Linked DNA regions of Homo sapiens: region 1 is linked to region 2. The links come from fine-mapping of genetic effects on gene expression. A gene starts in region 2. The other region holds a variant in brackets. All regions are shown on one strand. Distances are between the middles of the regions. Region 1 overlaps LOC105369844 (a long non-coding RNA gene). Region 2 holds the start of PHLDA1 (pleckstrin homology like domain family A member 1).

The links. PIP is the estimated chance that this variant, and not a neighbour inherited with it, causes the effect. A credible set is the group of variants that fine-mapping cannot tell apart.
Region 1: its variant is the best candidate, but not a certain one, in a credible set for the expression of PHLDA1 in testis (GTEx, PIP 0.57).

The regions. Positions count from the first base shown.
Region 1 is chr12:75,661,784-75,667,161 of GRCh38, forward strand. LOC105369844 (a long non-coding RNA gene) reads right to left here. Exons shown (of 16, transcript XR_007063375.1): 7 at 1,937-2,023. Among named protein-coding and RNA genes, the nearest start is that of KRR1, 150 kb to the left of the region's middle. The variant T/C (reference allele first, on the strand shown) is at 2,783.
Region 2 is chr12:76,029,693-76,035,070 of GRCh38, forward strand. PHLDA1 (pleckstrin homology like domain family A member 1) reads right to left here and starts at 2,084. Exons shown (of 2, transcript NM_007350.3): 1 at 818-2,084; 2 at 1-400. The coding sequence starts at 2,049. The coding sequence ends at 844. PHLDA1-AS1 (PHLDA1 antisense RNA 1) reads left to right here and starts at 802. Exons shown (of 2, transcript NR_186034.1): 1 at 802-902; 2 at 1,219-1,686. It overlaps PHLDA1-DT (PHLDA1 divergent transcript), which reads left to right and starts at 2,121. Exons shown (of 2, transcript NR_185978.1): 1 at 2,121-3,110; 2 at 3,572-4,697. RefSeq lists a silencer at 1,620-1,769 and an enhancer at 1,990-2,239.

The sequences.
Region 1 (5,378 bases), 370 kb before region 2:
GTAGCATTATAAAATGGTTCAGAACACAGAGCATGTTTTAATCCTAGCTTTGCCACTTCCTTTCTGTGTGACCTTGGATAAGTCAGCTGACGTATTAAAACTGGTTTTCTTGTCTAAAAATATAAAGATAATAACATACAATATTAGAGGGTTTTGTGAGGATTAAAAGAGCTAAGTCTATAGCACAGTTCCTGGAACATTGTGTGCAGTCAATAAATGGTGGTTATTATTATTACGGTTATTGTTCTTACAGTAATTAATTCTGGCACCATATTTTACAAAGAACTTTGACAAATTGGAGCCCATCCAGAGGAGAACAAACAATCTTGTGAAGGGTCTGGAAACCACAACTTGTAAGGAATGATGGAAAGAGCTGAGGATGTTTACCTTGGAAGAGACACATTTTAAGAGGAACATGATAGCTTTTTTAAAAACACTGAAAAGAACTGTCTGGTGGAAGACAGATTTGATTTATTCAATGTTACTCTGGAGTATACATTTAAAGCCAAAGAGTAAAAGTTAAATCTTAAATTCTTTATGATCTAATAACCAAACTTTCCCAAACCAAAATAGTATTGAATTCTACTTATAATAGTAAAAACTTTTAAGTCATGTTTGCATAAATTTTTATTAGGGAAATTATATCGTATATGAAGCCACTTGCAATTACCACTGTATTCGTCCATTTTCACACTGCTAATACAGACATACCCAAGCCTGGGCAATTTACAAAGGAAAGAGGTTTAATGGAGAACTCACAGTTCCACGTGGCTGAGAAAGCCTCACAATCATGGCAGAAGGTGAAAGGCATGTCTCACATGATGGCAAGCAAGAGAAGAAGGCTTCTGCAGAAAAACTCCCCTTTTTAAAACCATCAGATCTCATGAGACTTATTCACTATCACAAGAATAGCACAGGAAAGACCTGCTCCCAGGATTCAATTACCCCCTACTGGGTTCCTCCCACAAGATGAGATTTGGGGTGGGGACAAAGCCAAACCATATCAACCATATTAAGACTTTGTATCAATATGAAAAGTATGTGTGGGATGTCAATTGCAAAAAAGCAGACTATGAAATATGTGCATAAGCAGACTATGAAATATAGGCACTCTATAGAGAGAAACAGAAACAAAGAGAGAGAGAATATAAACACAAACACATGCAAATAAAATGTGTTACTTCAAGAGGTGATGAGTTTCCTGTCCCTCCAAAGGTTAAAGCAGAGACCAGACAACCTCTTAGAAGAAACAGCATGTGAGAAGTGATATTACAGACAAAGCATTGGGCAGGGTGAACACTGAAACGATTTCAAAGCTCCTTGGGTCTATGATCTGATGAATATTGTTGAATTGTGGGCACAAAACTGTGCTTTTTAAAATAGTAAAGATGACATTAAGCCTCTCAAATATTTTCATTTCCTCCCAATTAAAACAGGCAAAAAAAATCTAGTACCAAGAGACCCAAGTTCTGGGCTCCATGATCTACTAGGGCATTGTGGCATCAAGACCCACAAAGTGGACATTTCTGGCCATTATTTCTCTTCTGCTCCAGCAAAAGCCTGTCAACCTCTCTGAACCTCATTTTCTGGATCCTTTCCCAAAAAGAAGGAAGTTGCATGCTTTCTATTTCTAAGAATCTATGCTTCATCTTGATTATTTTCTTTCATAAATCTGAGCTTGGCCAGAAATTAGAAGCCACCTGAACTTTGTAAATAAGGAATTTCCAAGAACACTAACAAGGGAATAACTGTAGGAGAATTTTGGTCCCCAAATCAGGGATGGTCCTTTTTCCACATAAGTTTCAAAAAGTAATAAATAATTCCTATTATAATTAAATGGGTGAAAAGTTTAGAACTCTAAGAGACAAGCATCCAAAAGTAGGGTTTTCCTAGAAAGTCTCTTTATATTTTATGTAAGATGACATTAAGTCATCACCTGCATTGCTTTCTTGGCTTTTGATGATAAAGGAGCTCTCCTCTGTTGTTGTTAAACTTCCAGGCAAGTTTTCGGGCTATCTTCATCCTAGAAGGGCCAATAGACAGAAGATTGCCATTTTCAAGCATTGAACACACAATTGGATCCTTCCTTGACGTCAACTTACCTCCCATTTTATATCTCGGATGATTTCCAGTGGTGACAAAAACATGTATATTTCCTTTCCCACTTAGGGAACTATGAGGTGTGCTTTGACTAGCCAATAGAGATATTACAAAATAGCAAACCCATAAAACTTCTAGAGACTTCACGAATCCTGTAAGAACAGCCTCATTCTCTTCGAATCCTTGGTTATAATTCACATAGATTATCTTGTGGGAATAGAACAAAGTAAGCCTTGCTGTGCCATGCTCTTCTTGTGAAGAGTTCTCTGACTCCTATATTTCAGATGAAGGAATCATTGTAACATGACAATGGTCAGGGAGTGCCCTGCTCCCATGCCCAGAATTGACCTACCATCCTCAAACCAATAAGCTCAAGCCCAGATGATTACCACCTACATGGAAGGTAACTTTTTTTTCAGAAAATAGAAATTTGTTAATATTTTTATAATTGAGATGAAATTCACATAACAAAAATCAACCATTATAAACTGAACAATTCAGACCGATTTATTACATTCACGTGTTGTATAATCATGACCTCTATATAGTTGCAAAACATCTTCGTTACCTCGAAATACAACCCTGGACCCATTGTGCAGTTCCTCCATTCTCCCCTCTCTCCAGTCCCTGGCAAATGTTTGTTTTCAGTCTCTATAGATGTACCTATTCTGGATATTTTATA[T/C]AAATAAAATCATGTAACATGTGACCTTTTCATTCTAGAAAGATAGCCTTTTAATCATTCCCAAGTTTACTTTAGGAAGGTGTCACGTTTGTGTAAGGAAATACATAATCATATGAATTAACTTATCTAAACAAGAATTTATTGAGACCTAGCATTTGCAAAACATCTAGTGTTTTAGGAGCACAAAAAAGACCTATTAATTATCCTTGTACTCAAAGAAGCTACAGTTTAGAAAGTGGGTAGCAGAGAAAAAAGATCGAGAGCCAAATCCAAGAGGCCACTATTTTTTAGCAATCAAAAGAAGCCTGGCTTATAAGGGAAGCTTGGAGCTTTGAGGTCCTCCATAACTCACATCAATACTAGTTAGGATTCGTGGTTGCAAGTTCCAGAAATATAACTGAATTAGTTTAAAACAAAAAGGGGAAATACCAGGTGTGGTGGCTTATGCCTGTATTCCCAGCACTTTGGGAGGCTGAGGCGGGTGGATCACCTGAGGTCGGGAGTTTGAGATCAGCTTGACCAACATGCACAAAGCCTGTCTCTGTTAAAAATACAAAATTAGCCAGGCATGGTGACACATGCCTGTAATCTCAGCTACTTGCGAGGCTGAGGCAGGAGAATCGCTTGAACCCAGGAGTCAGAGGTTGCAGTGAGCCAAGATCATGTCATTGCACTCCAGCCTGGGCAACAAGAGCAAAACTCCATCTCAAAAAAAAAAAAAAATGTGGGAAGGAATATATTATGGAAAAGCAGGGGTGGCTCACAATGCGTGGTAGTAGAAACGGAGCCCAAACTCAAAGGAGAAGCTTAGGAATTTCCCTTTCTCATCTTGATTGCTATCTTAGTCCATTCAGGCTGCTATGACAAAATACCACAGACTGGGTGGCTTATAAACAACAGTAATTTATTTCTCACAGTTCTGGAGGTTAAGAATCCCAGGTCAAGGCATTGCAGATTTGATGTCTGGTGAGCACTCCCTTTTTCATAGATAGCTGTAATTTCACATGGGGTAAGGGACAAGGGGTTTCTCTGGGGTCCCTTTTATAAGGGCACTTATCCCATTAGGGAGGGCTCCACTGTAATGACATAATCATATCCCAGAGGCCCCACCTTCAAATAACATCATCTTGAGGTTACGATTTTAACATATGAATTTTAGGAGGACATAAACATTCAGTCCATTGCAGCTCCTCTATATATTTAAACGTCAATTCATTCTTTGCTCTCTGTTCACGTGGTGGACAAAAGACAGTGATCCCACAGTTTCCAAGTTTATATCTCCTTTCTTCAAAAGAGGCACTATTACATGAGGCTAAGAACAGGCTCCAGAGTCAGACAGAGGTGAGTTTAAATCCTAATTCTACCATCTACAGGCTGTGTGACACTGGGAAAGTCATTTAACCTCTTGGGCCTCAGTTTCCTCTTCAATAATAATACTGATTTCATAAGGTTCTTAAAAATTTAGTTGGAAAACACATATAAAGATCAATGTTCACCACATAAATCTTCAACAAATATTAATTATTTAATATTATGATTAAAGAGGCCATCCCTAAATGAGTGAGTCTTGATAACAAATCCAGATTTCAAAAAAGAGACTCTGATTGATCCAACTTGGGCCAAGTGCTTCCCTCTCCTCTATCAGTAACAGCCAGAGGGTAGAGTCACAGCTGAGAAAGATGGCTAGCACAGACATTCCTGTGGTAGAGACTCAGGAGCCTGTCTGCAACTGAACCCAGGAGAGAAGATACCAGAATCAGAGAGAAGAGGTGCGGAGTGAAAGTCAGGCCCCTAACCTGCTGAGGGGACAGCTGCCCGTGGATCCCAGGCCACAGAAGAAAAAACTTATTTGCGGCTTTTGGGCCTTAGCTAAAGAGACTCTCTCAGTTGATCTTTGGAACTTGTGCTACTGATTTTTAATTTAGTCAATATTGACTAGTTAACCTCCTGGACTTTGAAATCATTGTTTACTCTCTTTTCTATCACTTTAGCTTGTTTGGATTATTCTTTTATTCTCTCTGACCTTTAGTTTCAGATTTTCCTTTATCTTAGTTGTTCTTACCTCATGGTTTGCTTGCTGCCTTCTGCTTTTTTTTTTTTTTTTTTTTTTTTTTTTGGTGGCAGGGAGGGGTTGGGTTCATTTATGTAACCTAGTTTCTTGTATCATTTTATCTTTATTTAACTGTTCTTTTTTATTGTTTTATTGCTACTTTTAAACCTTTTTATTATCTACAATTTTTAGTTTTCTGAAATTCTACCAGTGAAAAGTGAAGAGGAAGGAGTTCAGCTGACAGGATGACCCCTTTGACCCCAAAAGACGGATCGGGGCTCATTTCCATTTCAACCATCCTGTAGGGGCCCCCAGACCCTGATGCTGATCTACAGAAATCTCACAGAAACTCTGCATAATTTAGTTTAGAAAGGTGTTTACAGATCCCCTCGGTTAAGGATTACACATCAGGCTGCTTCTCACCATACTTTGTTTCTGCTTTTCTAGGATAAAGTGCCTCCCTTCAGCAGATTGAGTAGGCGGTGAGTCCTATTCTGGAGAAAAAAGGTTTGTAGCTCTGCCAAAGAATCAGTGAAACAGGATGCA
Region 2 (5,378 bases):
AAGATTAGGAATTACTACGGATTAGGTTTTTGAAAATAAAGTTTCCTTTTTGGAAAATGGTCTACATTCAGAAATGTCTTAGAACAAGCATTTAAAAAAAAACTAATAAATAATCATAAATCAAAATACATTAAAATAAAATTACAGTACATCATCGCTCCTAGAAAATTCACCATACAAGACGATCCTTTCAAAGGTTCATAAATAAAAGTCTTCTTGACTCGAAATCGTTTCCTGCATCGTGATGAAAAGTATGCAGAAAACTAAGAAGAATCGCAAGTTTTCAGTAGGGTGATGTCCAAACTACTTGATCTGGTGCGGGGCGGAGAGACTGTTTTGCTTTTGATCCAAGTGAAGACAATAGAAATGTGCTCGTCCCACTTCCTCAAGTCCTCAAAACCTGGAAAGAAATGACACCGAGTGAAGTAGGTGGCTAAGAACCCTCCGAGACCAGTTCTGTTCGGGCCAGTCCGCCTGACAAAGCGGGCTCAGAAAGACACCGTGGTGTTTCCCTCAACTGCCCAAACATATAGTCAAGTGGGGCTGGGGGACGCACCACGGGACAAGGACGGTCGTGATGGGCGCGGGCGCGGGCGCGGTCCGCGAGGCCCCCTGCCTGGCCCGGATCTCCCCAGCCTCCCCTCTCTGCCCAGCTCTCCTGGCCCCAGCTTGTTTCTGTTTCTTCCATTGCCCCAGAAACTTGGTATGAGTTTTGATTTCTCCATACAGGAGCCGAACCTGTGAACAAGCTTCCTACTCCTCCCAACTCACTACCCCCGAGACCCACTCCTCGGGAGCGCGAGTGCCGGGACCTTACCTTGTCTTGCCCGGGAGCTGCCCCTTTCAGGCAGAGTTGGAGGTGCTGCGGAGAAGCCGGTGCCCGTGCGGCTGCGAGTGCGGCTGTGGGTGTGGGTGCGGTATTTGGTGCGGATGCGGGTGCGGGTGAGGGTGTGGGTGCGAGTGAGGATGAGAGTGTGGATGTGGATGTGGATGCGGATACGGGTGGAGCTGCTGGGGCTGAGGCTTGGGTTGGGGCTGAGGCTGGGGTTGTGATTGGGGCTGGGGTTGCGGCTGAGGCTGAGGCTGGGGTTGGGGCTGGAGCTGCGGCTGCGGCTGCGGCTGCGAGGGGGGCTGCTGCTGGACCAGGTGCTGCTGCTTCTGCCGCGTGGATTTGACCGCCAGGATGGCCTGACGATTCTTGTACTGCACCATCTGCAGCGTGATCTCGGCGTTCCAGCCCTGGTCTTGCGGGCACCGAAAGTCGATCTCCTTGCCCTCTGCCATCACCACAGTGAAGTACATGTACTTGCCCTTGCGCTCCACACAGTCCACGGTCTTCATGTTGGAGAAGTGCAGTTCCTTGAGCTTGACCGGCGGCTCGAGGCTGGCGACAGCGGGGCCACTGGGTTGGGACGGCTCGGCCGGCCCCTGCCCGGGCTGTTGTTGCTGCTGCTGCTGCTGCTGTTGCTGCTGCTGCTGCTGGTGTTGCAGCTGCTTGGGCGGGATAAGCAGCAGCCCTTCCTCGGTGAGGATGCAACACTTTTTCTTCCAGAGCTGCAACAACCCGTCGCTGCGCTTCTCCAGCACGCCCTCCTTCAGCGCTTTGCAGCCGCTACTCTCCAGCATCCTCCCAGCATAAGAGGGGCCGCCGCTTGGCTCGGCCTCTCCGTTTCCAGCCGCGCGGGCCGGGGGCAGCAGCAGCAGCCTCGCGCCGTCCTCGCCCCAGCGGCTCCCACGGCCGCCTGCCCGGAGCGCGCAGAGGAGGCTAACACGCAGGAGGCAGAGCGGCGGCGGCGGCTCTGGGTCCCGGCAGAGGGACAGCCGCGTCCTGATGCGCCACAAGGTCCCGGAGCTCCGAGCTGCCGGGCCTCTGCCGTCCTCTTGCGAGCGCTCACTGAAGGGCACTGGCCGGGCCCCCTCGCGGCGCTTTTGAATGGGCCATCTTCCCCACCCCCGAGTGACACCCAGCGGAAAAGGCGGCTCCTGGCGCCCGCACCGCGGGGGAAAGCCCAGCTCCAAGAGGCGCTCGGCAGCCGGCGCACGCCTCATTAACTTGGGGCCTTTCCAAAGCCCGCTGCGTCCACGCCCTCCAGCGTCTCTTGCTCCGCCTCTCGCCGCCCACTTGCTTCCGCGCTCGTTCCCCTGGAAGGCGACCCGGACCCGAGCCCCGGAAACTCCTCTCCTCTACCCAGGGCGATCGCCCAAGGAGCCCTGGCTGCCTGACTACTGCCGACGCTCACAGGGCGCTGCGAGGCCATCCCCCGCGTCCCGCTTCTCCCCGGCCCGCGGGACTCTCTGCTAACAGCCTCAGAAAGTGAGGACGGGGGCGCGGAGGCGGGGGCAGCCTCCAGGCAGTGCTGCCTCTCGGTTCTTGGGAATTAGCCCGGGGGATTCGCGCTGGGCTCCGAGAGCCCGCAGAACCAGCGTCGTGTCCTGGGCGAGCTGGGAGGCCGGGGCCGAGTCCCGCGAGTCCCGCGAGTGTGCCTCCCCCGGACGCCTAGGTAAACAACTGAGCGCACAGAGGCCGAGAGGACATCGTGTCTTCCCACGCATATTCGCTCACGGTCACTAAGTAGCTCTTCTTGGAAAGAGGGCGATTGTTAAAGCAATAGTGCGACTGTCGGGCTTGCCACGGGTGGAGAGAGGCGGACCCACGTCAGGTCGCATCTCGCCTGCTTTTCTCGACCCCGACCGCAGGCGCTAACCCGTCTTCGGCTTTCTTCTTGACCCGTACGGTTTGCAACGTCTCTTAAAACAGTAACTCAACTCTCTACAAACCGGGGTAATATCCGGTGCTGAGATCCCACACTGCAAGGCGCAGTTCCAAACGTCTGGTCGGCCTCGCAGGTCCCTCTTTCCAAGGCCTAGCCAGATCTTGGTTTTGGAATCTCATTTATCTGTGACCTGGGGAATGCAATACCCCCAGCTCCCTCCTACTCCTACATTTAAACAATGCCTATAGAAGCCGCTTCCTGGGAAGTAAGGCATAACCGAGACCTAGCCTCCCGGTAGGGAAGTTCATCCGTTTAGTAAACAGCCCCAACTACGTGCGGACCCTCACGGGGATACGAAGAATTCAACCAGGGCTGGACAAGTCAGAGTGGGCCAAGGTAAGAGTTACGGCTGCTACTGTGCCCACGTTGGAACAGATAGATTAGTTCATCTGCTAGTTGTGTGGCAAGAGCAAAGAATTCAAGAGGGGAAGAGAAAGTGAGAGGAGCTTAGAGAGCTAAGCAAGAATCGAATCCTTTGTGTGTCATGGTAAGAAATTCGAACTTAATACCAAGGTAGTCAGAACAAAGGACAACTTTTATACACGAGGGCGTCCTGAATATTCATCTAAGAAACAATGTCTGATCAAACGGGACAATCCAGCCAGCAATCCTGAGTCCCACCGGATTATGCTTGGCCAGCTTTCTAGCCTTCACATTGTTAATTTATTAGCAATCTTTTCAGGAGAAAGGCAATTATTAAAATTATGTGGACTTCTAGTAAAATTATCTCGAAGATTTACAATTATGTATACCAATAACAAAAAAACTACATGTTTTCTGCTCCCCTGCCTTTGTAGGACAAGTGAGCATTCCAGAGAATTTCTACATGACCAGCTGTTCATTCTTTTAAGAGGATGACATTCTTCAGCTCATCTGGAAAGGATACTTCCTTTAAGTCTGTTATTCACAGTCTCCAAGGGCAGGTGTAGTTGGGAAAGACATTTCATATGGAAAAACAAACTTGATAGGGTAAAAAAAAAAAAAATGAGATGTAATCTGGAGGCCCAAGTCATTTTCTTAGGAGAAACTCAAATGTGTTTGGTGTTATCTAACCTTCTGCAGTTTATCAGTCTGAAACAAATGCATTCTATTCTCATTTGAAAATGTCTGAACAGCCACCAATTTTCAAAATCACCCATTTAACTAGAGACTTTAAAGCCCAGAATTTGCAGTTACGTATTTCAGAATGATTTAGTAATTTTGTGAGCAGCTCAGAGGTTAAGTCTACAATGTCTGACTACGGTGCATTATTGAAAATATCAGTAGTGTAAGGATCCCGTAGATTGGTGATAACTTTGCTCTTGTTATTTCAACAGTTACCACCAACAGTTGGTGACTTAACAAATTAAGAGCATAGTTGCCATATGCTCATATTTGGCAAATATGTCAAAATGGCCATATTTGCCAATTTTTAAGACAATAAATTCACAGAAAATGCATTACAGAAAATAACTTAAAAAAAAAAAAAACAACTTTTGGGCCAGGCATGGTGGTTCACACCTGTAATACCAACACTCTAGGAGGCTGAGGTGAGAGGATCCCTTGAGCCCAGGAGTTTGAAACCAACCTGGGCTACATGGCAAGGCCTCCCTCTACAAATGTAAAAAAAAAATTAGCCAGGTGTGGTGGCATGCGCCATGTAGCCCCAGCTACTTGGGAGGCTGAGGTGGAGGACTGTTTGAGCCCAGAAGTTCAAGGTTGCAGGAGCTAGGATCGCACCACTATACAAGCCTGGGTGGCAGCAAGACCCTGTTTAAAAAAAAAAAAAAATTCAGCTGTATATGCAATGAAAACCTACAAGTCACTGAAAAGTTACTGAAGTTTAGAAAACTAGCCAACAAAATCATTGCTTTGGTAAACAAATTTGAAATGGCTAATTGAAAGTACATTTTACAGCTGGCAATATAAAGTTATCTATCAGCAGCACTGGACAGTTCATTTTCTTCTCTTGGATAAAGTTTATCACTTGGCTTCAAGGACATCACTCAGTTTTCCTTTACATCTCCAGTGTCTCCTCTATGAGGTGCTTTCTCTTCTCTCCAAACTTTTAATGTTGGAATGCCCCAAGTCTTTGTCTTTGGCTCTCTTCTTTATCTACACTCATTCCCTTGTTGATATCCAGTCTCATCACTTTTAATAACATCTATATGCCAGAGTCCCAAATTTATACCCCCAACTTATATCCAACTGCTTACTGCCGAAGAATAAAACACTGAAGTTAAAAAATAATAAACATACCAGGCAAGGGAACACTTACTAGTAAAGCCATTTACTGAGTAGTTCACTAAAGGTTTAAGTCTGAGGGGATTTTAGGTCATAGGAAAAAAAAAAAAAAACTGAAAAAGAACACTCGGATGGTCAGAGGAGTCTGTAATTCATACACAATAGGTTTTAACAAATTCCTACATGGAACTGCTCCAGTTTATAGGTTAGAATTAACTATAGTGAAAAACAGCCTTCAGTTTTTATCAATTCCAGGCCAGTGAGTGCTACTATAAGTTGAAAATTCTCCATTTACACTTCTCTACAGTACGGCTTGTGTAGTCTAAGAAATCAAACATGTGAATGAGCTCCCAAACTATTTTCCTCACTCTAACCTACTCT